Homo sapiens: one gene and its partners. The protein of the gene in region 2 purifies or fractionates together with the protein of the main gene of each other region. This does not show direct contact. Each region holds a gene or a part of one and is shown on either strand. Other genes may lie near its edges. The genes, in order: MZT1, TUBGCP2 and NEDD1.

Region 1 (3,357 bases), on a different chromosome or scaffold from region 2:
GGATAATAGTATGGTGATTTGTTTAAGTCTCTAGAAATAATGTATCAAAGTATTTATTGATGATATGGTATCTTGGAATTTCTTCAGAATCACCTGGGAAAGAGTAGTAGTTAGGGATGTAGATGAGACAGGATTAGATAAGATGTTCATTATTCATCTTTTGCTCTTGTTCTCTCTGCCTTGTAGCATGAAAGGTCTTTTTCATTTTTAATCCCTATTACTAGAATAAAACACAGAAACAGACAAACTAATGAAGTCTGTGGCAACAGGTCTGCCATAGGTTAATGTTTCAAGTAGCAGTATGTTTTTTGTGCTCTTAACTATTATTTTAGGTGATATAACTATTTTCCACTGTTAGCCTGTGGACTGTTAACTGTACATTCAAAAGGTAGTCCTGATGTATAGCAAAACATGAAAAGCACTGCATTACTGTGATAAAAGTGGTTCTGTTTTATGGGGAATAGTTGTTTGTTAATGACAGTGCAGTATTGACAAATTTATCTTCATGATGCCTCTTTTTCCATGGTTTTATTGTAATGAATCTTACTTTCTTGTTCTAGGCTGCTGAAAATATGACAAGCTGACTTTCTGGAGAAATTCTGATGAGATATGTCAAGCTCTGCAAGAGGGTTTGAAGATTGCATTGTAGTTGAGAATGTACAATGAAATTACTGCATGCAGCAGTGTAGAAAAATTTTACTTTTTAAAAGAATTATAAAACCATAGCTTTATAAATCAGTGGAAAGTGGCTTACAGAGAGAACTATCAGATGTGTTTACATCACATCTTATTCACTTTTTTTAACAGCTCTAATGCTTTGGCATTGCTATGTTCATATTTATGTATTCCTTATTTATAGCTCTGATAGCTTTAATTTTCTAAGCAGTCTGTCTATCAGATGTGCACATCTGCTGTGCCAGGTTGAAGTATAGTGGAACCCATCAGTAGTAATGTGTAGTAGTTATGACTTGTTGACATTTCCATTATAAACTTTAATTTTGAATTGTTTATGCATTATAACTGTGGATTTATATTGTATTGGGCTGAAAGTTGACAGGATTTCAGCCACCACTTGTGAATTTTTATTTAGATTCATTATGTATATCAGAATCTTGTTTTTTGAAATAAGAGCATGGAAAACATTTCTTGTAATCTACTCTTGAACAAAGAATATTTAGTTTTTCAAACAGTTTGTTGGGCAGCTAATAGTGTGAACCAGGTCATTTTTGTATTGAGTAAAAAAATCAAACTTTGAGAAACTTGGATTTTAAAAGTAATGACAATGCTTAGGTTAGTATTATTTGTAATTTGAATCATTTACATCTAATGAGAATGTTAGTTGAGAATGTTTTCTTAAAGTTTTATATCCTATAAATAACGGAATAAAAAAATTTGTAAAATGAAACAACAAACATGCAAAATTCCTATTTACTTTTATTACATAAAAGTAATTTTAGTGCTTACCTAATAAATCTTGAATGGTTATTTAATAAATTATTAGATGGGTGATGTGTTTCAAAAGATACTTGCTATTTTTTGAAGAAATAAGGATTTCCAGTCATTAAACAAAACTAAACAATCTTATTAGATGGGTGATGTGTTTCAAAGGATACTTGCTATTTTTTGAAGAAATAAGGATTTCCAGTCATTAAACAAAACTAAACAATCAAATGTTCTATATTAGGAATCTCAAGTATGGCTTTTTTTAAAAAACCTTTTTAACATCTTGATGTCAAGGATTATAAGTATGGCTTTTCAGAATTGTTTTGTTTGTCATTATTCTTGCCTTTAAAATTTTAACTCATCAAAGTGAAGATTAGAAATAAATTTTAGAAAATGTAGAATAGTATTGATTCTGTTCCTGTAATAGAATCTCAGTGGAGTTTTTTTGCAAAACTAATATGGATTTCATCTGATTTTATTATTTCTTAAATTTTAGATTTTATTGAGTACCATTTATATGATTGTACAAGCATTCACTCTTTACTAGCATTTTTTGTTTTTCAGACAAGCTGAAGTGGTTTTATTAAGATTTGGTAATATTTAAATAGCAACCTTCTCTGCCTTTTTTTTTTTTTAATATAGAATTTTGACCATTTTGACTTTTTAAATGCCTGGCATCTTTACCAACCAAGTAAACTGGAAGATCTGTTACTGGTAGAACAGGTTGAGGAGACAGTAGGAATTTGTAAAAAGTCATTTGATTTATAATCAACACTACAAATACTATGTGTTATTTATAAAATCATAAAGAACACTTTTGTCAGACTCCAAAATTTGTATATACTTCCAGGCCATAAGAGTTGATAGTATTATTTATGACTTTGTAGATTAAGTTATTTATGTATGAAACAAAGCAGGAAAATATATTGAGAAGGGATCGTGTTTACAGAGGACTTCTTTAAAGTGTCACATTTTTAAAATGTAAACATATTTTTAATGCATACTTAAGTAATATTTAAGAAACTAAACAAAATAATGATACAATTGCAGTGTTGTGCTTGTTGTCAATGACAAAAATAAAACCATTTTGGTGGTATTGGCCTGTACTTTTGTTTTAATATATGCTTTTGTTAATTCAACTTGTGTTTCTATAGGACAAAAGATACAGAACATAAAATTTACCATTTTAACCTTTTTTTTTTTTTTTTTTTGAGATGGAGTCTCACTCTGTCACCCAGGCTGGAGTGCATTGGCATGATCTTGGCTCAATGCAGCCTCCGCCTCCTGGGTTCAAATGATTCTCCTGCCTCAGCCTCCCGAGTAGCTGGGATTACAGGCACCTGCCACCATACCTGGCTAATTTTTTGTATTTTTAGTAGAGGCGGGGCTTCACCATGTTGGCCAGGCTGGTCTCAAACTCCTGACCTCAGATGATCTGCCTGCCTCAACCTCCCAAAGTGCTGGGATTATAGGCATGAGCTACAATGCCCTGCCCTTTTTAACCATTTTTAAGTTTCATAGTTCAGTGACATTCAGAATATTCTTATTGTATTGTAACTATCACTATTGTCCATCTCTTGAACTTTCTTATCCCAAACTGAAACTCTGTACCTGTTTAGCAGTAACTCCCCATTGCTTCCTCCTCCCAGCCCCTGGTAAACAGTTTCCTACTTTTTTGTCAATGAATTTGACTATTCTGGATACCTCATATAAGTGGAATCATATTTGTCCTTTTGTGTTCGTCTTATTTTACACAGCACGTCTCCAAGATCTATCCATGTTATAACATGTATCCAGATTTCCTCTTTAAGGATGAATATGTCTCATATATACATGGGAGACAGGTATTCTTTTATATATATGGTGGACATTTGGGTTGTTTCTACCTTTTGTCTATTCTGAAAAGGCTATTCA
Region 2 (7,594 bases):
AGACAGGGTCTTGCTGTCGCTCAGACTGCAGTGCAGTGGCACGATCTTGGCTCACTGCAGCCTTGACCTCCTGGACTCAAGCAACCCTCCCACCTCAGCCTCCTGAGTTGCTGGAACTACAGGCATTCCCGGCTAATTAAAATAATTTTCTTTTTTTTTAAGAGATGAGCTCTTGTTACATTGTCCAGGCGGGTCTCGAACTTGTGGGCTCAAACAATCCTCCCTCCTCAGCTTCCCAAAGTGCTGAGATTACAGGCATGAGCCACTGCACCCGACTGGACAAATTCTTATGAAGCTCTGCCATCGACCCCTTTTTTCAACACCCTAGAGGCACAGACCGGCTGCAAAGCACCTCTGGTCCCAGCAAGATGTGGCTGTCCGCTCTCGGGAGGAGCTAGTGTCCTGCACACCGACCTGGGCAGTCTCCATGCCCGTGCAGTCACCACAAGGCTCCAGAGAGGGCTGAGGGACAGAGCCAGCATCCCCTGTGGGGTGGACGGCAGCGCCGTGCAGCCCCAAGACAGGAAAATGAAGCAATGAAGCATTATGGATCTAAAGCCACCAACGTGCGCTTCCAGATGACACTTCCAGAAGCCTAGAAAGCTGTCTACCAGGAGGGCACAAGGGGGGCGCTGCACCACTGGGCAGAGTGCAGCGAGCGCTGCTTCAGGAGGGCATGCGGGGGCAGAGGAAGAACGCACCACTGGGCGGAGTGCAGCGAGTGCTGCTTGGCGGTTTTGTTGCTGATCCAGACGCTGCAGAGCTGCCGCTCCACGTGCTTGCAGTAGAACATGTGCCTGAAGAGCATCTGGTAGCGAGTGAGGGCTTTCCTGCAAGAGACGTGGCGGCACCTCAGGTGGGCCTCCGTGACCGGCGGCGTCGTGGACACGGCGTCTGTACTCCACAGTCCGCACCGTGGCCCCCGGACAGCCCGTGAATCTCTCGGACACTGAAGGCCGGGGAGAGCCGCCTTGGGTCCTCTGTGGGACGAGGTGGCCACCGCGTGGCACAGTTCTCGCTTCTGCCAAACCTGAGTGAAGATCTGGCAGGTGCCCGAGCAGCCGACCCGCACCTGTTGATGATGAGCGAAAGGGGCCACTTGACGATGTAGTCGAAAGAGAAGGCCTCCAGGCCGCTCAGCGCCAGCTCCGTGGGGTCGGCGTGCGCCATCGCCTTCTCCTGCTTGGTCTCGATGGCCAGGACGCGCAAGAGCTGAGTGATGAGGTCATGGGGCATCAGGTCGATCTTGGAGGGAAGGAAATGAAACAAAGCATCCAGTTTTAAGGAAAAGACCCGAAGTCGCATCCCGATCGCCATCCTCGCTCACAGACCCAGCGCTGACGTAAGGTTCCCTACATTCCGATTCTAAATATCAGAGGCTTTTCAAAAACCCAAACATCTACTGATAAATCAAATTCAAAACTGAACCACTTCCCATCAGAACAAAACAACAAAAATTCAGATGAATTACTTTGTAAATACCCACTGCTGCTGTGGGTGGTATAAGGGAAAAACCGCTAAGGACGGTGAAAGAAACGTGATTCCTTAGGACGAAAACCTTTGTACCATGATAAGCACCAGGCCCAGGTTGAAAAATGAAGCATATTTGACGAGGGACATAATAGTTATTATAAGCAAGTAATACTGTCCTCACGTTAATCACTCGAGTATTTGCTAAGTTCCAACCACCCGCAACAGAGTTCCTACAAAACCATCGCACAACGACAGGACAGGAAATGAAGGGCAGGGGATAAAGCAAGAAGAAACAAGCAGCGGACAGACGAAATCGTGACCATCACAAACGCAGAAATGAGCCCCTGACATCACTTGTCCATCAAATAGCCAAGGTGGGAGCTTTCGCAGGTGTGCAGACAGCAGCGTCCTGAGACTGGACTCCATCAACTCCAGCAAGGTCAGCCTAGTCATACAAGGGCCATGTATTGTGACCCAACAATTTCACTACCAGGAATTTTTCCTACGAAAATATTCCTGCTCCTAACAAGAGACCCCAAAATATCTGAATCAAGAATAGACAGAATGACAAGGAGAAAAGCAGTTCTTCAGTGACAGGGAGACTCGGTGCCCTACTTCTAACCACGGAGAGAACCGCCGGACAGACGATCAGTGAGGAAAGACACGGCCTCAACCCACCTGCAGAACACCACCCCAACAGCACCGAGGGCGCGTCCTCCTCCCGCGCGCACGGAACCGAGGGCACATCCTCCTCCCGCGCGCACGGAACACTCTCCAGGATGGATGTGGGGCCACTACACAAATCAATACATTTCACAAAACTGAAATCACAAAAAGTCTGTTCTCTAACAAGGAGATAAAGTTAGAAACAAGCAACAGAAGGAAAACCAGAAACTTCACAAACATGTGGAAGTTAAACATAAACCACCCACGGCTCCAACAAGAAATCAGAGGGAATCAGAAACACCTCCAGACAAACAGAAATTATGACGCTAGGGGATCAGCGAAGGCTGCACTCGGAGGGATGTTTACAGCTGTAAACTAACTTTTCAAATTAAGAAACTAGAAAAAAGAAGACCACACTGAACCCCTAAGCAGCAGACAGGAGTAACAAAGATGACAGAAGAGAGAAAACAGAAAAATACAGTCAACAAACCCAAGAGTTGGTTCTTTGAAAAGATAATGAAATCGACAAATTTCTAGCTACATCAGCTAAGACGAAAGAAGATTCAAATTACTAAAATCAGAAAAAGAAGGGATATAACTACTAATCTTACAGAAATAAAAAGCAGATACTAGAAACCCATGAACTGTGCACCAGACAAGATGCGAGACAGACAGCCGACCAAGAGGAAAGGGACTGAGCAGACCTGTGGCCAGCAAGGGGCCAAGTCCCCCTCAAAAGTCTCCAACAAAGACAAACCCAGGGCCCAAGAGCTCCCAGGCAAACCCTGCCAAACAGCCAAAGAATCAACACCCTCCTGGGGAGGCGCAGGTGAAGGATCGCTTGAGCCCAGGGGTTCAACCAGCCTGGGCAACACAGACCCCCGTCTCTATTAAAAATAGTAAAAAACAGATAAAACATATATATATTTTAAAAAACGGCTGGGCACGGTGGCTCATGCCTGTAATCCCAGCACTTTGGGAGGCCAAGGTGGGTGGATCACCTGAGGTCAAGAGTTCAAGACCAGCCTGGGAAACATGGTGAAACCCCATCTCTACTAAAAATACAAAAATTAGCTGGGCGTGGTGGCGCGCACCTGTAATCCCAGCTACTCGGGAGGCTGAGGTAGAGCATCACTTGAACCCAGGAGGTGGAGGCTGCAGTGAGCTGAGATCATGCCACTGCACTCCAGCCTGGGTGACAAGAGCAAAACTCCGTCTCAAAAAAAAAAACAAAAAACAACGACAACAAAAAGGCAAAAACAAAAAGAATTAACACCACTCCTGAAACCCTTTCAAAAGACCTGAAACCCTTTCAAAAGACAGATGGAGGGACACGTGAAAACAATTCCACAAGGCCAGCATGACCTGAAAGCCAGGCCCGGACGAGGGCACTGCAGGAAAACCCGAGACCCGCGCCCCTCCAGAGCACAGGCACAAAGACCCCCGATCCCGGCAAGCCGGCCCCGGTAGCCAAGTGAAGGAAACAGACCCTGCGGTCGCCTCACCGGGACGGGGAGTGGGGGACAGGGCTGGCCTCTGCTGTGCTCTCCTCCCAGCCCCTCCGAGGCCTCTGCCACAGGGGACAGCCCCCGGCACCCCCACCCACCTTGAGGTCGTCCTTGAAGGGGTCAGTGTTGGCCGTGCTCATGCGCAGCGCCAGCTCCAGGAGCGCTTCCAGGCGAGGGGGCGTGATGTCCTCCACCGGCTTCCGGAGCTCCTCCTCCGCGAGGTCCATGAAGTGCACGAAGAAGTCGCCCTGGTCCATGAGGAAGTAGCGCTTGATGGACCTGCGCCAGGGAGCAGGCGTGAGCAGGTGCCCACCCGCAGGTGCCCGCCACAGCCAGGGAGCAGGCGTGAGCACGTGCCCACCCGCAGGTGCCCGCCACAGCCAGGGAGCAGGCGTGAGCACGTGCCCACCCGCAGGTGCCCGCCACGGCCAGGGAGCAGGCGTGAGCACGTGCCCACCCACAGATGCTCGCCATAGCCATCACCCTAAAACACACTACAACAGGCTAAGCGCTTGGCTCTCAGGCAGGGGCTGTGCAACCACCACGCAAGCTGTGGCAGGAGGAGCTGAGAAGGGGCTGGTGGGCCCTGGGCAAGGAGGGGAGCTGGGGCCCCTGGACAAGGTGACCGGGGGCCTACACCACCCACTGTGAGTGCCAGGTCCTTGAGCTAGAGACCATCCAGCAGTGCCCACTTTCAAAAAGACAAGGCGGAGCTGCCAGAAGAAACCCAGCGATCTCAGCCCCACGTCCCACAGGTTCCGGTTTCAGAGGGAGGTGAGTGCCCGCACAGGGACAGGGCACGGAATCACCTGAGGTGAGCCACCAGCTCCTTCTCCTCCATCAGGAAGTCCAGCAGCACCTTGCTGGCGTAGTTAAACGCCTTCTCGATCTGCTCCACATACGCCCGCTCTTTTAACGTGTAGATGATCTCTTTAGCCACCGGGCAGGTGACGTCATGGCCACACTCTCTGACCACATTTAGATATTTTCCTGAAAACACAGAAATTCAAAATTTTATTCTCCACATGGTCGATCTCAGGCCCCAGCTGTCTTTGTCTACACAGGAGGCAGTGGAATGGACATTGAATGGGCTCTCCACACGGTCAGTCTGAGGCCCCAGCTGTCTTTGTCTACACAGAAGGCAGTGGAATGGAAACTGGGCTGCATGAGGCGGCTCCACACCCTTGCTCCTTCCCGGTAAATCACTGTCAGCGGCTACAGACTGAGCTGGTGGTGGCAGGGCTTTGCCGTGGCTCTGCACATCTGGAATTTTCTAACCAAGGGCACAGAAATAATTTCGAACAGGCATTATGAGAACCGGATGGCTAATCGCTTCCCAACCCTTTCGTGACGGCCCCGATGTGCCGAGTCCAAGTCCCCGCGCCACTGCCCTGGGTCCAGGTCAGGCCCTAACCTGTGTGGTCAGAGATAGGAAACACTGCCGGCCGCCAGGCGTGTGTCTTTGCTGGTTTTTCCTGACATGCTAGCGGAGTTTTAGAAATCAGAAACAGAAATAGAGAAGGCACCTGTGAGAGAGCCTCGCAGGGTCAGGGACAGAGTCCCGGAGATGGAAACCTGAGGGAACCTGGCAACAGAGACCATCTCAAGGCCTAACTCAGCGCCGCAGCCCAGCCCACGGGCCAGTCCTGACCTCAGCCCCGCATTCACGGACACCAGGGCTCAGGGCAACCACAGGGTGAGGCACAGGCTCCCGGTGGGAGGGCCTGGGCTGCAGGAGACTCTCCAGGCAGAGCTGTGCTGCGCACCCCAAGTCCCCGCCCGCTGCGCCGCACCTGTGCTGAGGATCTTGTCCGCCATTTTCTGCAGGAAGGACGGGATCTGCTGCTGGACGATGGTGTACCGCTGGTCCCAGTACTTGTCGTTGTAATCCTCCTGGATCCTCTCCTTCCGCAGCTCGTGCTCCTCGACCATAAACTCACTAAAACCACAGGGAGCGCTTCGGTCACAGGCAAAGCAAGGGCGCCTGAGGCAGGCGACACTTCTCCAGGCCGGCAGCGCGCAGGGACATTAACAGAGGCCAGCACACTTCCAAGTAACGTTCCACAAGGGCCGAGCCTAATCTACCAGTTACTTCTCAACTGTGGGCTAAAACGAACCTAGGGGCCGGGCACGGTGGCTCACGCCTGTAACCCCAACACTTCTCGGCTAAAACGAACCTAGGGGCCGGGCACAGTGGCTCACGCCTGTAACCCCAGCACTTTGGGAGGCTGAGGTGGGCAGATCACGAAGTCAAGAGATCAAGACCATCCTGGCCAACACAGTGAAACCCCGTCTCTACTAAAATACAAAAAATCAGCTGGGCGTGGTGGTGTGCACCTGTAGTCCCAGCTACTTGGGAGGTTAAGGCAGGGGAATCGCTTGAACCTGGGAGGTGGGGGTTGCAGCGAGCCGAGATCATGCCACTGCACTCCAGCCTGGCAATGGAGCGAGACTCTGCCTCAAAAAAAAAAAGAAAAAAAAAAAAAAGAAAACCAACAAACCTACAAACCTCGCTCTGGAACGGAGTATTTAACCTGGGCTCAGGGAGAATGTACGGTCCGCAGAGATAGGTGGGAAACTGATTTGTCTTTATCTGCACCCACCTCTTTTTGGAATTTAGCATTTCCTTCCATGATGAGCCCAGGCAACAAAATGATGCTCGTGTGGGGTGCGTGGGGCCCTGACACCCAAAATGATGCTCGTGTGGGGTAGGCGGGGCCAACATTGACAGAAACCAGACATCTCCACGTCATCATCTGAACAACTTCAAACATCATTTACGCACTTCAAGTGTGAAGGTGCTTTCTTTAAAGGTGCCCATTATACCAGATTTTATTTGGTCCATTAGTAAAGAAATAACATTTCCACATCACTAATGTATTTTTTGAAAATATTTCAACAACGGTATCTTGACGTAATAGACATAATACAATTCTTTGGGAACTAACATATTTTTATCCATTTAAATATATCGCACTGAAGAGAAGCCGACAGACCCCACCAGATCAGGAAATCCAAGCACCAAAGAGGTTGAAGGACCTAATTGGAGGCAATTTAATGTCCTGCACACAAAAGAATAAGGCCATAAGCAGCTGGGCCATTCCTGCCCTGGGCCCCATGGGCAGCAGGCGGACATCTGCCCGGGGTGTGCTTTCCTGAGACCACAAGCAAAGGAAGGCCAGAGCCCCCAGAGAGGGCAGCACGCGCCCTCCGTGTCCCCCATGTCCCTCCGTGTCCCCCATGTCCCTCCGTGTCCCTGTGTCCCGGGGAGCCCTACCTGTACGGGAGAGGGCAGCATGCACCGTCCGTGTCCCCCATGTCCCTCCGTGTCCCCGTGTCCCTCCGTGTCCCCGTGTCCCGGGGAGCCCTACCTGTACGGGAGAGGGCAGCATGCACCGTCCGTGTCCCCCATGTCCCTCCGTGTCCCCGTGTCCCTCCGTGTCCCCGTGTCCCGGGGAGCCCTACCTGTACGGGAGAGGGCAGCATGCACCGTCCGTGTCCCCCATGTCCCTCCGTGTCCCCGTGTCCCTCCGTGTCCCCGTGTCCCGGGGAGCCCTACCTGTACGGGAGAGGGCAGCATGCACCGTCCGTGTCCCCCATGTCCCTCCGTGTCCCCGTGTCCCTCCGTGTCCCCGTGTCCCGGGGAGCCCTACCTGTACGGGAGAGGGCAGCATGCACCGTCCGTGTCCCCCATGTCCCTCCGTGTCCCCGTGTCCCTCCGTGTCCCCGTGTCCCGGGGAGCCCTACCTGTACGGGAGAGGGCAGCACGCGCCCTCCGTGTCCCCCATGTCCCTCCGTGTCCCCCATGTCCCTCCGTGTCCCTGTGTCCCGGGGAGCCCTACCTGTACGGGAGAGGGCAGCATGCACCGTCCGTGTCCCCCATGTCCCTCCGTGTCCCCCATGTCCCTCCGTGTCCCTCCGTGTCCCCGTGTCCCGGGGAGCCCTAC
Region 3 (7,594 bases), on a different chromosome or scaffold from region 2:
ACATGAAACTTCCTGATGTTTGAAAGTGTTTGATTGAAAAATCATCCCCATTATTTAACTTGTAAAGGAGAAATAGAGTAATCATAGACTAAAAATGTTCAAAGAGTTTAAAGTTTGTGGACACTTCTGTTGTGTGAGTGTTACTAAAGACAATGAAATGGATATGAATCGTTAAATTCAGGTACGTTGATTTGATCTTTTGGTGTGAATTAGATTTTCAGTGTAATATGTGTCTTTAATATGGTAGAGATAGAATTATTATGTAGGACCCTTTGAAAAGGGTTGGTTAACTACCTGAAAATGTCTTTTTCTCTTTCATATTAAAGTCTTATCCTTAGAGTTTGTGCTGCAGACCCATACAAACTTCATCACATTTAAAGGAATATTTGGTTTAACTCTAAGAGTTATCTACACAAAGCAACTCTTTGTTTACAATCAACTCTCATATAAATATCTATATTTTGCTTGAAGTTTTCTGTGGATATATATTGCATTAGCTTAAACTCTAAGGCTTTTCCTGTAGCAGTACTTTACTCCTATTTTCCTTCGGTTTGTTTTTAATAGTCTTGGTTTATCTAGTTTATGGTGCAGCTTGTCACATTCATCTTTTATAAGAGGAAATGGTTCATAGATTCTTCAAGATTAATCCCTCTGTCATGTGGTATTACATTAGACAGCTGGCAGTTTATATATATAGATAAATGACTATTAGAAATAATGTTATAGAAAGTTTCTAAGATTTGTATTCCAGACAGTGAATTTTTCTAAATGTCACAGGAACACTCTTCTTTGCCAGTTTTTCAAGTTTGCACATGCCAAATCTTATTTAGAAATGTTTGATGTCTCTCAGTCCAAGTTGACTATTAATATTTTCTTCATTCTTTATTTTAGATCCAAAGATAGCATCTTCTGTCACTGCTGGAGTTGCCAGTTCACTCTCAGAAAAAATAGCCGACAGCATTGGAAATAACCGGCAAAATGCACCATTGACTTCCATTCAAATTCGTTTTATTCAGAACATGATACAGGAAACGTTGGATGACTTTAGGTAGTAATTGAGAAACTACTCCTTCTATCTAGACCTTACTTGTTTTTTTTTTAGATGTAAAACCAGAACTATAGATAATGTTGTTGGTTACTATTGTCTAGGTTCTGGTAATCCTAAAGCCATAGAAAACATAATGAGTTTTGTTGATCTTTTCGTACTGCATTTATTGATTATGAGCCAGGAAAAGGCACATTTACCTAGGGCAATTATTAGGTAACTCAGCAGGGCAGTCTAGCAGGTAGACTGCCATTGTGAACTTTTTTTATTATTAAAATGTGGACAAGTTCTGGTAAGCTTAAATTGGGTTCTTAACCTGCAGTATGTTCATAGATCTATTAGGTATGCTGTGTGCAATAATGTAGTAGAAAAAGATACTTTAAAGCACAATTCTGAATGTTTTCCAATAGAATGCATCAGAATGTAATACTTAATCTAAAAAAAATTCTTTCTCAGACTTATCCTTGTCTGTCTCATCCTTCGAATTGTGAACATTCTAAGAATGTGTTCTACAATGCTGCTTTCTTTTATCATCTCAATATTTTTGGAAGCTATCTTCAATTATTAAAATCATTGGTGCCTTTTTTCCTTTCTAACCTATAGTTAATGTTGTAGCTCAGATTTGGATTACCGTAAGCAAGAATGTTGGAGAAAATGTGCAGTTTTTGTTGGTGCATGCTTCCTTTTAATGTTTTAAAATACTTTTAAAATATATTTTTAAATGTCGAAAAATACTTTTTAAAGAAAAATTGTAATTTTGGCATTTACCCTACCTAGTATATGTACCAGATACTAAGGATACATCAAATGATCTGCCACAAAGGCCTTGTGATGTAGTTGGGCTAGGTGCAGTGTGTTCTGCCATGTGTGTTTCTCTTAATGTGAATTAATTCATTTGGGATCAGTAGAATAGAACACTGTTGACAATATGATGAGGAAATTTTGTTTGTTCGTGTAATAGCAGCCAAAATAAAGTACACCTGAACACAGCTGAATGCAGCAAACCCCGTCAGCATCCATCTCTTTTTATTCACTTCCTCTTGGCTTGGCTGTGTGGTCTGTTAGAAGTACTTATTTTGTGATTATTTCCCATCTTTGGGCATTTTGCTCTTGCCTCTGTAACTTGATAGCCGCAATCCTTCTATCCTCTTCCATTAAGTGACCATCACTTCTTCACAGTAAGGGTATTATTCAATAATTATCTATTAGATTTTTACTATGTCTTTTTAACTATGTTAGTATTTTTATTAGGATTTAATTGTTTTTGTTGTGCTCTGGTTACAAAGTTGCATAGGTTTTTGAGTGCTTTGCCCTAATCCTTTTTCCCTAAGTTCTGTTATTTTTAATACACAGTGTTAAAGAATATACGTTTTTTTCAGGAGTGCATAAATATTTATGGCATAATAGTAGAACTGTCTGGATACAGCTGACTATAATACAGTGTGAGCAAAGTGATGTTGAAATCACAGAAAGGGAGCAGTTCTTCTGTGGGGGCAGATTTAGAAAGGTACACTGAAGAGATTTTATTTTATACTGATGTGTGTGGGAACAGCTTGAGCAGAGACATGATCATACATTCTAGGAATGTTTGCAGAGAGAAGGCACCGTGGTAAGAGACCAGGCCTGAGGGACAGTTGTGAAGGTCTTAACACACAGGTAATGGAGAGCCATCAGAGTTTTTAAGCACAGGAGTAATGGGTGCTGTCTATTTATTACCCATTTATTCAACAAGCATTTGGGTGTCAGTTCACCACTGGCTTCAGATGATTTGAGGACAGTGGGCTCAGGGCCTTTCCTTCAGCAGACCCAGGGATCTGAGTGCTGGAGCAACTCTGAAATCGCTGTGCATTTCTGCCCTGCTGCCAGCTTTCGGGGTGGCTGGAGCTTGTTTTTCACTATCTAACCTGTTCCTGGCTTTCTGTGCCTCAGGAGAAGTGTGTCTGTCCCACTTTCAGCCCTGCAGAGCTGCTGCAGCACGTTTGGTGAAGACGTACAGTCAGTGCCTCTTGGTTTTGCTGCCCTGTGCTGCATGTCTGCACCTAGGAGTGGTGGGTAGGGACTTCTCTCAGCTCTTCTGCCCTTTGACCATAGGCAGCCTCTGCCTGGGACGCAGTGAAGACCCAGAGTGGCTCAGAGGATTTCCATAAATTCACTTGTTTTGCCATTTGCCTAGGTGTTCATCAGACTAGGTGTTCATCTACACCTATCATTGGCAGGACAGAGAGGGTATTGAGGACCTCTTTCTCAGCCATCCTCCCGTGGCTGCCATCTTCTCCATGAGAGCCTGGAGTGCCTTAGAGGGGTTACTCTCAGTTCTTCTCTGCTGCCCTAAGGTTTCACCAGGCTCTGTGCATCTGTATCTTAGGGAGTCTCCCTCAGCCCTCCTGTTACACTTGTCCCTACTTTTTTTACATGAGCGCTGAATGAAGGCTTGTGGGAAAAAGTTGGTGAGTAAATTGAGACTCTCCTTGTGGCTGGGACCCCTTGGAATTCTAAACTATCAAGCAGTGTTTACTTGGCTTTTAAAAATCTTATTAAAATTTCAGCTAGTTCTTTTTACTCTGTCAAGGGCATGAAGATGGGTCTCTTTTCTCCTAGTCATGGGTCTCTTTTCTCCTAAGAGGAACTCCTCATTTTCTGGATTTTAGTTCATTTAGATTTCTTTCCATTCTCAGCTCTCGGTTGAATTTAAAATAATATGATTTTATAGGTTATCAGGTTTGTTTTCGTTATTAGAGTTGAGAAATTATACTTTTGCACCAACCTAATACATCCTAAGTGGAAATCTGTGCATCTGTTTCTGTTGTCTATTAAGAAGATTTAAGTTTCTTTTGGCAAGCAGATCCCTTTGATCCTTTGGTTACTAGGTTCAGGTTTTCTTAGCACTAGTTTGTTTCCAGTTTGCCTTTATTCCTAGTGTGTAGTCTTTTCTAGGACATCAGCTGAATGTCTGGAGTATTCACTGTCTTTTTTACCTTGGTGGGTCCCAAACTTCAGCCTCTATTTTGCCAGCATCACAAGACTTCCAGAATACTTTCTCTGCTCTTTAGTTACTTGTTTTTTGGTTGGTTTCCTGCCATCTAACCCAGGGGGAGCATTGCTTAGAAGTCAACAGATGTCTTGAGGGGAAATTCCACAGTTTCAGGCTTAGTTTTCTGCAGGCCTCCTCTCTTCAAGACCTTGGCTCTTACAGCCTTGGCTACCTTGGTAGGCCCAAACTCTTAATACTCCCCCACCCAGCGAGACTATCTCAACCTCCAGGCCACTGCTTCAGCTCGGTTTCTTCTCCACACTGTGGAATCAGCACATACTCTAGAAGGAAAAACAGAGGTAAATGAAGAGCTTACCTAGTAGTCTTTCGTTTGCAAGATCATGGCCCTTCAAGTCCTGGCTACCTCAATGGTTCCCTGATACAGTGTTTTTGTTTGTTTTCAATACAGTTTTTACTATAATTGAAAGTAGAAGAGGAAATTTTTAAAAATACCCTCATAGTTAGAACAGAAAAACAATAAGTTACTTGGGAATAAATCTACCAAAGGTAGTGAAGATTTTTGTAGAAAAACATTAAAAATTTTTTTTGTTTAAAAGCATTAACATTTAAATAAATGGAGAGATTATAAAGATATTAGTTCACCTAAATAGGTCAGTAGATTGAATGCAATTCCAATTAAAATCCCAGCTGGGATTTGGAAGAAGATGATGAAGTGATTCCAAAATATGTATGGAAGGAAAAAAATCTAAGAATAACTAAGACATTTCAGAGAAGAATAAGGTTGAAGGGGACTTATTTGTCAGATGAATACACTTAATTATTAAAGTATAATTAAGATATATAGCATGGCACAGGGATGACATACTGGCCAAAGGAATGAAATAAGCTGGAAAGAAACCTATGCATATATGGAAATAATAGAGAGGTAGCATTGCAGATTTATGTGCAAAAAATGGAATAATCAGTAAGTTGTGTTGTGACATTTGTTTTTTCCTGTAAAAAATAAGTATAGATTCCATGCAATTGAGAAAAATCAGTTCCATGTAGATTAAAAGTTGACTTTATAAAAGTTTATAACTTCATGGTAGGAAATCATTAAAAATAAAATAATGCACTGCCTATAAAAATACATTGGTAAATTTGACTGCATTATTAGTATATTTGAGCACATTAATAAGAACTATTTATCACACAATATCACAGAGTGAAGGGATAAGAAGATACCTGCAGTTCTCATATAAATAACAAAGGATCAGATTATGTAAAGAATGCTTATAAATGAATAAGAAAAAGATATGAAAAAGCATTTCAAGGAAGAGGAATGGTATATGAACACAGGAAAGATATTCAACTTCACAATTAATCAGAGAACTAAAAATGCAATGAGATACCGTGTCACACCGAGTAAATGGGAAAATATAAAAAATCTGGTAATACTAAGTCTTGATGATATAGAGCAAGAAGAACTCTGTTATACTGGTGACATCCATTGATAACTACCTTTGGAAAACAATTTGCATGATTTTGTAAAAGTATACACTTGAGTTACAGTTGGTTATATCATCAATGGACATTGGCACATGTGGGTTTGGAGATAATACATGATTGTTTATAACAACGTTGGAATAGTAAAAACTTGAAAACAGTCAAAATATTAACAGGAAAATAGATACACCAGTACAAACTAATGATATACAGATATATAAAACATGAATCTTCAAAACAATATTGAATTATTTCTTAAATATAAGCTATATGGTACCCTTTTTTGTAATGCTCAAAAACATGCACAATGAAAACATTGACTACAGATTATATGTTATACAAATGTATTAAAAAAGCAAAAGCATTTCTTTGTCCAACAAAATTCAGGAGAGTAATGACTTCTTTCTTGGGCTTTTTCCCAAGAGTTAAGTGATAGAATCAGACAGGAACACACAGGAAGCTTCTATTATTTGGTAATGTTCTAGTTCATAAGTTGTGTGGTGGGTGACTGAGTGTTTCTTTTGTTATTATACTTAATAATTTTTACATATTCTTTTGTAGGCATGAATTAATTGTATTTTATTGAGTAAGCCATGCTATATCCACCCAAATTGCCACTTTATACTGAAAGTACATTTTTTCAATAGCTAAACTGATAATAATAAAATGATCTTTCTAACCTAGTGAATTTTCTGTATTTCATTGTAAGATAAGTTTGTGTCTTAATGACAATTTCTATATAAAGGAATATAGTATCGGAGAGTTCAGGGGTTAAACAGCCTGGGTTTACATCCTAGCTCCATCATTTACTGGTTGTGTGACTTTGAACAAGTTATATCTACTCTGGTTAAGTTATTTCTTTTGTAAAATGGACCTGTAATAATTGCATCTACTTGTGAAGATATTTTAAACGAGTTCTTACATTTAAAGTAAAGGAAACAGTGCCTAGCACATAGTGAATAAATGCTCAGTGCATTGGTATTTTTATTATTATAGTAATTATTAACATTCAGTAATTTGGCAAATGAAAAAGTTTAGTGAGTTTCTTGAATGACCTAGAATTGGTTAAACTATTGTAATTCTAAAAAGTATTTTACATTCTTCCTAGAGAAGCATGCCATAGGGACATTGTGAATTTGCAAGTGGAGATGATTAAACAGTTTCATATGCAACTGGTATGTATGGCAAATTTTATTTTAATATTTTAAATGAAAGTAGAGTTGTGTGAATTTTTAAAAATCCATGAAAGGTAATATATTTTAGTTGTTTTGTTTAGTTTCTAAGATAAATAGGGAGTTTTATAGACTAAATAAGTAAAATAGATTTTAACTGGTCACCTCCTTTTTAACCTCTGAGATACTTAAGCCTTCTTTTTTCCATGGCTTTCTTCCTGATAAGTAAGCAAAAAGCATTTTAAATGTGCAAATATAAATTTTCCAAATATACTAATTTCACCAACGATCTTCCATTTATATTAACAAACTAGTAAGTTGTTAAGTACAAGAAATATCATTCACCTAGTTAATTGAACATGAGAGAAATGATAGCTGAAAGTATATTAAACATAGCCTGCCAAATAAATGTGAAATATCAATAATTTAAAAAGCATTTTCCTGTTTTTCTAGAATGAAATGCATTCTTTGCTGGAAAGATACTCAGTGAATGAAGGTTTAGTGGCTGAAATTGAAAGACTACGAGAAGAAAACAAAAGATTACGGGCCCACTTTTGAAATTTCAGTGAATACCTTAATGTTCTGTAATTTGGGAAGTTTCTGGCAACACAGAACTACATAGAATCAGTATTGTTTTCATGGCCTCCAGGGAAAAAATGTTTTTCAAGTAAGAGTAAAAGGATGATGGGATTTTATACCAACAACTGTTTCATCTTAAAAATATGTATATTTTTATATTAAAAATTGTACAGTATGTCATCTACCCAATAGGAAAGTCAACAGGATCTTTATTTTTTGAAAGCTTTAGCCATCCACTAAGTGCCCTTTTTCATAAGAGAAGAAAATTGTGCATAAAAATTGGTTATGTTTGTTTTTTAGTCATCTTTTTTAACATATATT

The links.
Region 1: the proteins of TUBGCP2 (region 2) and MZT1 purify together in Homo sapiens (affinity purification with mass spectrometry; 5 studies listed by BioGRID and IntAct, with this or other methods). This does not show direct contact.
Region 3: the proteins of TUBGCP2 (region 2) and NEDD1 purify together in Homo sapiens (affinity purification with mass spectrometry; 2 studies listed by BioGRID and IntAct, with this or other methods). This does not show direct contact.

What each region holds. Positions count from the first base shown.
Region 1 is NC_000013.11:72,707,549-72,710,905, reverse strand, and holds the end of MZT1 (mitotic-spindle organizing protein 1), read left to right. Parts: intron 1-560; coding exon 561-584; 3' UTR 585-2,539; downstream 2,540-3,357. UniProt on the Homo sapiens protein: Required for the recruitment and the assembly of the gamma-tubulin ring complex (gTuRC) at the centrosome.
Region 2 is NC_000010.11:133,284,384-133,291,977, forward strand, and holds part of TUBGCP2 (gamma-tubulin complex component 2), read right to left. Parts: exon of another isoform or gene 7,019-7,594; intron 6,925-7,018; exon of another isoform or gene 6,450-6,924; intron 5,587-6,449; coding exon 5,441-5,586; intron 4,638-5,440; coding exon 4,457-4,637; intron 3,927-4,456; coding exon 3,746-3,926; intron 1,246-3,745; coding exon 1,073-1,245; intron 831-1,072; coding exon 702-830; intron 1-701. UniProt on the Homo sapiens protein: Component of the gamma-tubulin ring complex (gTuRC) which mediates microtubule nucleation.
Region 3 is NC_000012.12:96,944,802-96,952,395, forward strand, and holds part of NEDD1 (protein NEDD1), read left to right. Parts: intron 1-891; coding exon 892-1,048; intron 1,049-6,630; coding exon 6,631-6,697; intron 6,698-7,147; coding exon 7,148-7,252; 3' UTR 7,253-7,594. UniProt on the Homo sapiens protein: Required for mitosis progression. Promotes the nucleation of microtubules from the spindle.